Linked DNA regions of Homo sapiens. The protein of the gene in region 1 purifies or fractionates together with the protein of each later gene. This does not show direct contact. Each region holds a gene or a part of one and is shown in the gene's direction. Other genes may lie near its edges.

The links.
Region 2: the proteins of GPHA2 (region 1) and FRAS1 purify together in Homo sapiens (affinity purification with mass spectrometry; 3 studies listed by BioGRID and IntAct, with this or other methods). This does not show direct contact.
Region 3: the proteins of GPHA2 (region 1) and PCSK5 purify together in Homo sapiens (affinity purification with mass spectrometry; 3 studies listed by BioGRID and IntAct, with this or other methods). This does not show direct contact.

Annotation. Positions count from the first base shown.
Region 1 is NC_000011.10:64,934,310-64,938,057, reverse strand, and holds GPHA2 (glycoprotein hormone alpha-2 precursor), read left to right. Parts: upstream 1-2,164; 5' UTR 2,165-2,224; intron 2,225-2,597; coding exon 2,598-2,700; intron 2,701-2,882; coding exon 2,883-3,067; intron 3,068-3,183; coding exon 3,184-3,285; 3' UTR 3,286-3,587; downstream 3,588-3,748. UniProt on the Homo sapiens protein: Functions as a heterodimeric glycoprotein hormone with GPHB5 able to bind and activate the thyroid-stimulating hormone receptor (TSHR), leading to increased cAMP production. Plays a central role in controlling thyroid cell metabolism.
Region 2 is NC_000004.12:78,055,112-78,058,859, forward strand, and holds the start of FRAS1 (extracellular matrix organizing protein FRAS1 isoform 1 precursor), read left to right. Parts: upstream 1-2,211; 5' UTR 2,212-2,898; coding exon 2,899-2,974; intron 2,975-3,748. UniProt on the Homo sapiens protein: Involved in extracellular matrix organization. Required for the regulation of epidermal-basement membrane adhesion responsible for proper organogenesis during embryonic development. Involved in brain organization and function.
Region 3 is NC_000009.12:75,893,606-75,897,353, forward strand, and holds part of PCSK5 (proprotein convertase subtilisin/kexin type 5 isoform 3 precursor), read left to right. Parts: intron 1-3,748. UniProt on the Homo sapiens protein: Serine endoprotease that processes various proproteins by cleavage at paired basic amino acids, recognizing the RXXX[KR]R consensus motif. Likely functions in the constitutive and regulated secretory pathways.

The DNA of each region.
Region 1 (3,748 bases):
AGCCCTGCTCACCCAAGAGACCTCTTCCCCAGTTCCAGTTTGGCCCCAAATGGTTGCCTCTCCATAGACAAAATGTTTCCCACCTCTCTATCCCTTTAACTGTTTGACAGTAATGCAGATTCGTTTATCAGATTAACTGGAAGTCAATCCAGGTTGGCACCCCTGGAGAAGGCCTGGCCACCTGAGCTGCCTTCAACTAAAGGACTGATCTGTAATAGACACTTTAGCCTCATGTGGCCGTGGAGAACCAAAATGATCTATGGAAATGTAGGGAAACTCATTTTAGCTCACAACAAAGGAGTCACTTTTTACCTGTTAGAGATGTCCAATATTAGAATGGGCTACCTCATAAGGTAATGAGCCTTGTCACCCAAATGCTTTAAACAGAAGCCATCATCTGTCACATGCCAGAGGGTGCCCCTCAAGAGTGGGAGAGCAGGGGCTGAACTGCTGAGTTCCCGCTGCGTCCTGTTGCTATGCTGCCTGCACCCTTGGTGGGGAGAAGAGAAGAGGTGGACTGCTGCGGAGGACCTGGCAAACAAGGACCCAGGTCTTGAGGGGATGGGGGCTGATGGGGAAACCGTAGGGTGTGGGAATTTAAGGATTAGTGACATTAGTAACATCACTTCCTCTCAAATTGCGTTTACAGCCTTTACTCGACTGTCCCAAACATGGCCTGTTTTACAAAGCTGCTAAGAAGCACAGCTCCAAATCTGGAGCTGTGAGTGCCCGCCCTGACTCTGACTAGCTTACAGTGAAGCTTTGGGAAGTTGTTTTCCGCTGAGCTCTTATTTTCTCATCCAGAAAATGAGGGGGTAGGATTTGGTGAGTTATAAAGTGCCTTCTAGCTCTAGCAGTCTGTGACTGGCCCTGCTCTTTCTGAGCAGATCAGTGAGGCAATGACCCCAAAGCGGGGCTGCCCAGAATCACCACAGGCTTCCTTTGGCTCTCCACCTTGCCCCAACCCCTCTGGCCACTGCTGCCTGGGGGTCTTTCTCCAGCTTGCCACATTCTTGCTCAAGTGTAGTTTAGCACCATGGATGGACAGCAGATTTGAATTTGAAATCAGCCCTAACATTAACTAGCTGGGTGACTTTTAGTAACTTTCTTTCTTTGAGCCTTAGTTGCCTCATCTATAAAACCAGAGTTGGACAAATAGATCAGCTTTGCTGGGGTTGATAACTTCAGGCCCTTTCAGGAGTCAGGTCCCTGTTATTCCAGGGCTAGGGGAGCACTCCAGCTCAGAACGTTACTCTGTAGCACAGGATGCGAATCATCCACTGATACCGTGGCCATGCAACTCTGAAACAGACAGCAACCCCCAAACCCCCGGCCCTGCCACCAAGCACATCTCAGGAGACCTCCACTGGTATAATTTCCCTTGTCCCTAAGAATCTCCTTCCCCAATCCCTTTCCTTTGCAGTTAGAAAAAGGCAAGCAGGACTGAGTTTAGTGGTTTTAAAATTAGGGGTGTGGCCAGGCACAGTGTCTCATGCCTGTAATTCTAGCACTTTGGGAGGCCTAAGCAGGCGGATCACTTGAGCTTAGCAGTTCAAGACCACCATGGGCAACATGGCAAAATCCTGTCTCTACAAAAAAATACAAAAGTTAGCTGGTCATAGTGGTGTGCCTGTGGTCCCAGCTACTCAGGAGGCTAAGGGGGAGGATGGCTTGAGTCTGGGAGGCTGGGAGGTGGAGGTTGCAGTGAGCCGAGATAACACCACCACACTCCAGCCTAGGTGACAGAGCCAGACCCTCTCAAAATAATAGTAATAAATAATAATAAAGTTAGGGGTGATCAGGCCCTGAACAGGGAAATGTTCTGTCCAAGGTCACAGAGCAAAGAGAACCCAGGTGTCCACAACTCAGCCAAGAGTCTTGACCCCTGTGTCGTCAGCTGCACACACGCTGCACACTCCACCAGCTCCTAGGCTTCTCTCCACATCTGACTTATCGAGGCCTGGGCTGTGGGTAGCTTTTTGGACAGAAAGAAGCAGAAAGCAGCAGGAGCTGCTCTCCGAGGACCGCACCTCAAAGAGCAAGATCCCCCAGGTGGGATCGCTCTGAGGCTTCAGGCAGGGGAGGCTGGTTTGAAAGCCGATCTCCAAGAGGGCGTGGCTCCAAAATGCTGGCAAATAAAAGCCTGGAGAGCCAGCACCAAGCTGGAGACCAGCAGGAGGCACAGGAAAACTGCAAGCCGCTCTGTTCCTGGGCCTCGGAAGTGGTGAGCTCGCTGAGGCAGGAGGAGCTCTGGGGAGGGTCTGGGAATGTGGACGAGGGCCCTGCAGGCCAAGATGGGGCAGATGGAGGGAGGAAGATGTTTGCGCTCCAGATGGCGAAGAAAATTCCAGGGAAGGGAGAATCACTGCACAGAGGGCTGACACACAGGTCCTTTCCAGAGACAGCTGCTCACACTCACACCCATACACACACACACACACACACAAAGGCAGATACAGGGAAAAGGCAGCACCATTCAGGCACACCTCACCTGTCAGACCAGCCAGCCCTGGCTCACTCACCTGGAATGCAGTATTTAAAGAACTCGCCATCCCACCTGCACACCCACGTAGAGACATCTCCCCACTGTGTTTCAGATGCCTATGGCGTCCCCTCAAACCCTGGTCCTCTATCTGCTGGTCCTGGCAGTCACTGAAGCCTGGGGCCAGGAGGCAGTCATCCCAGGCTGCCACTTGCACCGTGAGTACCTCTGGGACCGGAGGGCTAGGAGCAGTGGAGGTTCTGGGTGGGAGCAAAGAGCTGAGTGGACGGTGGGGCAGGCAGCACCCTAAAGGGCCCCACACTGAGGCACAGGCAACGGGAGCTGGGGCGAGGCAAACCTTGGCAGAGGCGCCGTCTACTGCTTGCCTATCTCCTTCTAGCCTTCAATGTGACAGTGCGAAGTGACCGCCAAGGCACCTGCCAGGGCTCCCACGTGGCACAGGCCTGTGTGGGCCACTGTGAGTCCAGCGCCTTCCCTTCTCGGTACTCTGTGCTGGTGGCCAGTGGTTACCGACACAACATCACCTCCGTCTCTCAGTGCTGCACCATCAGTGGCCTGAAGAAGGTGAGGAGGGCCCGGGCCCGGTGGATGGACGCTGGGGTCGCGGGAAGACCAGAGAGATGGAGATCCTAGACAGCCCTGAGAAAGGGGACTGCAGCACGGACTCCCCTCTCCCGCAGGTCAAAGTACAGCTGCAGTGTGTGGGGAGCCGGAGGGAGGAGCTCGAGATCTTCACGGCCAGGGCCTGCCAGTGTGACATGTGTCGCCTCTCTCGCTACTAGCCCATCCTCTCCCCTCCTTCCTCCCCTGGGTCACAGGGCTTGACGTTCTGGTGGGGGAAACCTGTGTTCAAGATTCAAAAACTGGAAGGAGCTCCAGCCCTGATGGTTACTTGCTATGGAATTTTTTTAAATAAGGGGAGGGTTGTTCCAGCTTTGATCCTTTGTAAGATTTTGTGACTGTCACCTGAGAAGAGGGGAGTTTCTGCTTCTTCCCTGCCTCTGCCTGGCCCTTCTAAACCAATCTTTCATCATTTTACTTCCCTCTTTGCCCTTACCCCTAAATAAAGCAAGCAGTTCTTGAATTTCTCTCTTTATTAAGTCTACCCCCAGCCACGGAAAGAGGAGTAGACCATGATTACTGTGAACCCCCCCTTACCCCAGGACACTGTGAATCTCTTCTTGCCTGTGCCCTCCCCCTCCCCCTGCCCAATAAATAAAAAGGGGACAAGGAAGTACACAGCGA
Region 2 (3,748 bases), on another chromosome or scaffold:
TCAGGGTGGACCATGGCCTCCAACTTCCAAGCTCAAGTGATCCTCCCGCCTCAGCCTCTGGAGTAGCTGAGACTACAGGTGCACCCCACTGCACCCAGCTTGATTTTTAAAATAAAATCAAATTGTTGATTTTTGAGAGAACAAACGGTTTAAGTTACTCCCATTCAGTAGCAGCTGCAAAATTAGGAGGGGGTTTAAGGGTGACCGTCTGGTTGTCAGAGTGTGTTGGAAGCTGAGTTTGAATTTGCACATCACTTTACATGGATTGAGAAGATGTCCTCCACCCCCCCGCCCCGCCCGACCTTTATTTTTGAGACAGAGTCTCGCTGTGTCACCCAGGCTGGAGTGCAGTGGTGAGATCTCTGCTCACTGCAACCTCTGCCTCCCGGGTTCAAGTGATTCTCGTGCCTCAGCCTTCAGAGTACCTGGGATTAAAGGCATGTGCCACCACACGTGGCTAATTTTTGTATTTTTAGTGGAAATGGGGTTTCACCATGTTGGCCAGGCTGGTCTCGAACTCCTGACGTCGTGATCTGCCTGCCTTGGCCTCCCAAAGTGCTGGGATTACAGGCGTGAGCCACCGCACAGGCCCTACTTTCTAAATAAAAAGGGAGGGGTCTTTTTTTGGGAGGAGGTTAAGGCCCGCAGCTCCCCTTGATATGGCCGCTGCTCTCAGGCACTTAATCCATTATTTCAACAAATGTTTAAAGAGCACCTACTATGTGCTTCAATTATACAAAGATGATACAACCTCTGTCCCTAGAATGACCACAGCCCAACAGAGAGACTGAGGGCGAAATGTGCAAACCCTGGGTCCTCCAAATACTTAAGATTCAGAGCCAGGTTGTCAGAGGTTCTCCTTTGTTCTGGCTGAATAGTAACACTGACAGGGACCTGCCAGTTTCAAGTTATTCCAGTTATTCGGAAAAGTGAATTGTTCCAAGTGGCGTCAGTGCACGTTAGAACGTGGGCCCGCGTCATGGTGTTCGTGAAGACTGGAAACAAGTGGGACCCCCGCCAGCACAGCTCATGCAACTGCTTCCCCTCCAACAGTTTCGCCCATCCCGACTCAATTGAGGGACCCGAGACGTTTCTTCTCTGGGCCAATCAGAACCCAGTCAGCATCTCTCTGATGCAACTGTTCCCTTATAAAACGATTAAACGTGGACCAGCTATTTTTATTCGGTCCTATAAAAATAGCTGCCGTCAGTCAGTCCTGGCGGGGAATCAAGGCCTCTGCTCTTCAAGTGCGCGCCCCAGTCGGCCGTGTCCTGATGTTACTTTCCCAGCCATTGGCATCTGGGGGCGCAGCTGGACCCACAGCTCCCAGACCGCGTTGTGTTCCACTGACAGAGTCTCCTAGGGAAAGGGAAAGGTGCATTTGCTCTCAGGCTCCGCCTAGGACACACACACCAAGATCTTCCCGGGCTGCTGGTAAAAGCCAGGATGCAACAGCCTGAGGGTCCCAGAGCGAGGAAGAAGGATCAATCAGGTCCCCCGGACGCACTTAGTTCAGCAGGAGTGGCGGGCTGTGGGGGTGGGAGGTAGCCCCAGGGCCTTTGATGTGGGCACACGCTCCCCCAGCCCGCCGAATCGGTTCCTCCCCTAACAAGGGATGTGGACACGGTTCATCTGCCTTCCGGTGTGCCTGAGCAAGAACTGTGCAACCTATCTCCACCCCCTCCGTCCCCGGTATGAGCACTTTTGATTCCTCCCCAGACAAAGCCAATCTGAACTCCAGCAGAATGAATAAAGGGATCAGGTTGCTCTCCCGGCCTCCCCTCACCTCCCTCCTCGCTTCTCCCTTTCCCCACGTGACTCTCTGGAATTTCGCCAAAGCTCCGAGTCTCTGGGTCCATTTTCACACCGAGCAAAGCAGAGAGGAAGGAGGCAAGGGAGACTAGAGGAAGGCTGAACGTGTGTCCTTTAAACACGGGGTCCAGACCCGGCGTATTTTGGGCGTTTCCAGGCTCTCTCGCCAGAGTGGCCTTGAGTTTGGGGGTCTTTTCCAGCCTCGCTAGCTTTTTCCTCCGTGCAATTAAAATTATGGCTCTTCTTCCACTCCCGTAATCATTGCACCTCTACCCTGCAGACCTCCTCCGGGGTGTTCAGCGCGGAGGTGGGTGTTGGTGTGCAGCAAGCCGCGTCCCCGCAGCCCTCCTCACCCAGGCGAGGGGCGGGGACGAGAAAGTAGCAGCAGCGCCCCCCAGTCTTTCCTCTGAAGCTTCCGAACAGTCTGCTTCAGGGAGCGCAGCCTGAGGCGGTGTGGTGCGGTGCGGCTGCAGGGCGGGCGAGTCCCCGGAGCTGCCCTCAGCGCTGCACAGTTTCCAGCGAGCGGACCCCGGCAGATGAGGTCTGCCGAGCCGGGTGGCTCGACCAAGGAGTGGGTGTGGGTGGGTCTTTCGGGGCTCCCGGCGACCCGCGGTGCCGACGCAACGCCGACGTATGGTGCCAAGCGAACTTTAAAAAGCTGCTTCGGACAAACCAGAGCCAGGATTTCCACTGTCGGGGACCCGGGATCGGAAGGGTCTAGCCCGAGGGAAATGCTGGAAGATCCCATCGGCCAGTGACCAGCAACTTTCCGGCGAGATTTTGACGCGGAGAACTGTGCTCTGCCTCCTCTTATTCTCCCAAAGCTCACGTTGGCGTCCTGCCTTGCGGGGGAACTCGGCGCGCTCTCTGCCTGAGCAGCGAGTGAATTGAACCCCAGCCCGCTCCGGCGCCTCCGGGCTGATGAGTGTCGCTCTCCGCCCGTCCATCTCTTTTTCCCGGAGGTAAAGGCCCGCGGTCCCCCACCTTCAGTGCGCCCGGGTTCCAAGCGCCGGAGCCAGCGTTTTGGCGGAGCCGCTTCTTGGATGCTGAAGGCTGGGCTCCTCCATCGTGGGTGCCGAGGCGGCGATGGGTGTCCTCAAAGTGTGGCTCGGGCTGGCCCTAGCGTTGGCGGAATTTGCAGTATTGCCTCATCATTCCGAAGGTGAGAGAGCGGTGCCGCGTGTGTGTGTGTGTGTGCGTGTGCGTGTGTGTGTGTATGTGTGAGTGATCGTGCAGTTTAAAAATCTCAGCAGGTTTTATGGTATTTCGGTGAGGTGGAAGTTTTTCTGGGAAGGGTGAGGTGGAAGTGAAACTGGAATAGGCTTTTTCTGATAAGATTCCTACTCCTGATTGTTTTGTATTCGGATTACACCCCCGAAACGGCCTCCCTCTCTGCCCTAAGTGCTTTTGGGTGGGTGGGTGGCCGATGGAGGTGACATCTCTGAAACTGATCCTTTTTCTTTCCACCACCTACCTTTCCCCGAAGGGAAAGCAACTGCATGGAGCACAGGTGAGGAGCGAACAATTGCTCTTACCTGTTTAAAAATACTTCTGTTCCTAAGAAACATACAGTCTTTCATCTTAAAGCCCCATCGCTCTCCCGCCCTCCTTACCTCAGTTAGTCTCCCCCTAAAGTCCAGTTAGGATTTTATAACTAACTGGTTGGAGCGTGTTCTGGTCGTGGGCAGTTCAGTTGCACTGAAAGAAATCTCTCCAGTACGGAGAAGCACGAACCAGCCTGCTTCCCAGAACAAAAGTGGTTAATAAGAGTTTAGGTTCATTCTTTTACTTCACCCTCCGCCTCCTGGTTTTCCTCCGAGGCTCCAAGCTACCTGTAAAACCCCGGAGCCGCAGGAGAGAAAAGGAAGCCGTGAGACTAGTTGTCGCCATGATATCAAATGCAATCCGGGCTCAGCCAAATAAATGAGTCAATAAG
Region 3 (3,748 bases), on another chromosome or scaffold:
CACCAAATCCACTTTTGAACAAGCAAACATTGCAATGTCCTGCAACCTCTGCTTGACTATTTACAAAAGGCCTTATAGTGAAGATTCATGGCTTCTCATTAAAAATAATAATGCTAAGAAAGTTTACATACAAATAACACCAAGGATGATTTATTGTGGTTTTACAGCGCCAATGAGGAAATTTAGTGCTTATAGAGGTTACAGAGGACCCCTTGAACCAGTGTAAAAAGATCAGCTATTCTACAGTGGAGAGCATTTCCTCTGTAGATCAAAGGAGCTTAAGCCTATGCTAAGTCTTTGGGGTGGTAAATGGAGTTCACACGTGCAATATCATTGCACTGTACAGGCCAAATGTATTTCTTATTCATCCTTTACTGCTCTGACCTTTCAACACTTTAGACATCCTTTTGTTATTCTTTCCATCAGTAAACCAGCTGTGGATCAGCTGAGGGCAGTAACTAATTTGCAGATGCGTCTGGAATGTTCTGTTTTTTACCCATTTGGGCTTGGGGTCTCATCTTACGTGTTGCAAATTGGAACTGAAACTTGTTATTATTTCTGCAGTCATTTACTATCCTGGTAGTATTTTTTATATCTTCGGTATGATATTCTAGGTGAGTAAGGTAGTAAATTTTCACCACAGTAAAGGTATAGTTTTGACCATTTGCTCAGAATATCAATGTAATGTTTTGTGTAGCATCTTAGCATTTGAAAGTCACGAGAGGTAAGATTTCTGGCCAGGGCATTTCTATGGAAAATAATAGCTGTGCCTCTTCTGTTAAAAAAAAGATGGGATGTGCAGAGTAACACAAGAAGAAAGCAAACAAACAAGCAAAAAGGACGTGCTTGATTTCCAGAAGGGAACATAAATGAAGGTTTTCTTGCCTTTGTTCATAGAGCTAGCATATGTTTTCACAAAATGTTTATATTTTGTGAATGGTTGTGCCTTGAAATCCTGCAATAATAATACTTAACCATAATCATTGTTAGTTGTTGTCATGTTAGCATATATTATCTTTTGGTTGGTATCGGAGTCAGCTGCAGAATGCCCTGCTTTTCTTCCCTACAAGTTCTGACTACCAGCCCTCTTAGTATCTAGTGGAACCAGCACCTTCTGAGCTGGCCGAGGGTAGGAGGTGTGCATGCCTATTGACCTGCACGGGAATAGAGGGAGAAGCCTTTGTCCTCCCTCACTAATCATGTGCTCTGACCCTTTGAGCTAACAATCTACTGGTTAGGCAATTGAAATGATATAAAGGAATAAGACCTGACATGTTGTTAATTGTGGACCTCCATTTAGAGTAAATCTACAAAGAAGAATTAATGTCTGGTTATTTGAATTCAGGGAGAAGATCCCTTGTGAACAAACAGATTGTTTACAATGTGCAATAGCTGTATTTATCCTTCTGTGAGTTGCTTATAATCCTTGATTCCAGCCTGAGATTACCAGTAGCAAAGCCCCTTCCCCAAACCACATAACAATTTGAATAACACCTCTGAAGGATAAAACTAAATGCAAGCCATACTGGAAAAATATTTTACCTAGAGCCCCCCCATTGACAGCATGTGGACTTGGAAACTCTGGAGAGGCCACTTTCGAGGCTGTGAAAGCAGGAAAGTCACTGAACTTAATGGAGCCTCTGTTCCTTCATCTGTAAAATGATAAATCTCTAGATAATAGAGTGAGTTAACTATGCATTGCTCAGCACATAGTTAGGCTTGCAGCGAAAGGTTTGTTTAATCTGAATCTGAGGAGAAAGGTCAAAATAATTGAGATCCAAAGTTTTAGATAAGGAGAAAGGAAGACATTTTAAAAATGGAGATGCGAAATGTGAAGATCAGGAAAATATATTTTTGAAGATTGAATTGTAAGAACCATATCATAGCTTTGTAGGCAGGGAAAATGATTTTCCCTTTCAGTGAGTAATTTAAAATATTAATAGTTTAAAAATAGTTTTATGTTAGATTCTAAACAATTAGGATTGATTTCCCATGGCAGGGCCCTCTTCCCTCATTCATCCTAGTCATAGGCCATGAAATGTTACAGGATAAGCATACTGCGGATGGACAAAAGGGAGGAAAAATAACCTGAAAAATTTTGTTAAATCATATTCGCATTTACATTTTATTTTTTATTCTGAGTGTAGTTTGTATGAGTAAAGCTAGAAGAAGCATTTTCCAAGTAGGTAGGAAGAGATACATTCGCAGGGAGAACTTTGTTCAGAGATGTCCTGAACACCTCCCACCCTGCTGATTAATTTTGAGCTGTGGATATTATAGGACGCTTGAAATGTTGATTCACATGGGCAGTGAATTCTGGGTGCTTATGGATAGTCCTGGAAATAGGGGATGTGGTTAGTCTGATGGGTTGTATGGGAGTGGATTGTGCTTGCCTAATAAATTCTTAGGCATTTTATAAACAGGAGAGTTAGTTGGTGCTGTAGTCCCAGATTGGTCTCTGTGTGATATATCTGGCTTTGCACAGGGCAACTCTTCATGCTCAAGATCCTCAGCCCTGACCCCTGCTAGCCACTCTCATATGCATATTTCTTATGATGAGGCAAATGAAGGGATAGTAGGGGAACCTTTGCTGGAAAAAACAATTCAGAGTGCATGGTCTGGTGATGGCGTGTCTGCTGCATTAACCTCATAGATAAGGAATGGTTTGTATGTGGTCATTGGGGATTTCGGGGTCTATTTGAAGTGAAAAACTGCATTTTTGTGAGCCTAAAGGCAGCTGACTTTGCCTTATCACTGTCTTTCATGGGCTTACATCCAGAGGTCCTAACCTTAAAGGTCAGCCAGAGAAACAGGGTAGTACAGTGAGAAAATTTTCAGCAATGTCTGACTCTTTGGCTGAGAGAGGGAGTCCTGACCCAGAAATATCCCCTGGGCAGGGAGGGATATTTTTGTTGTCGGTTCAAGTTATGTGAAGCAGTGTCTGGTTTTTACCAAGGCTGAAGTATCTCCAGGCATTGCTCTGCATTGGGACTTTTTTATTCATTTAATTCAGGTTGTGATCAATGACAGAAAAGCTGACTTTAGCTTCCTGGCTGGTAAAAATAAATGCTTATAGACATTAATGCATGCTAGAATACACACACACACACATATATACACATATACTTATATATGATATATACACAGATATGTATGTGTGTAATATATGTACATATGCACAGCATATATATGTCAATTTTTATTTTTACCAGAATAAAGTTTGCACATAGTTTAGAGTAAAATTACTCATGAGTGTTCTCACTAGTTTCAACAGATTATCCATCTCTACATCAAAGGGTACCAAGGAGGAACAATCAATACCAATAAACTCTCCAATTTGAGTTCATCCTGAGAGTAAAATTAGATCGGAAAGAAAACAAGACTAAGAGTCAGGTTTGAGTGAAATTCCAGGGTCTTTACTTTTATCAACCAACCTGACCCTCAGTTCCTCATTTTTCAGATAGGGAGCCATAATACCTACTCCATCCACCTCATAGAGTTGCTGTGAAAATCAGGTGACCTAATAGTGAAGATGAGTGTGTATTAGCTAAAATAAGGCATAGGGAGCATTATATGATCTTTAAAGACACCTAAGAGATGCACAGGCACTCAGAAGAGAATAACAACATACAGTAATTTTCCAGATTCTTGTGATTGTCCCTGGGGATATAATGGGGGCTGAAAGGAAGAGGAATAAGTGTTGTGCCTGATTCTCCCATAGGATGATGTGATAGCTACACTTTTCCCC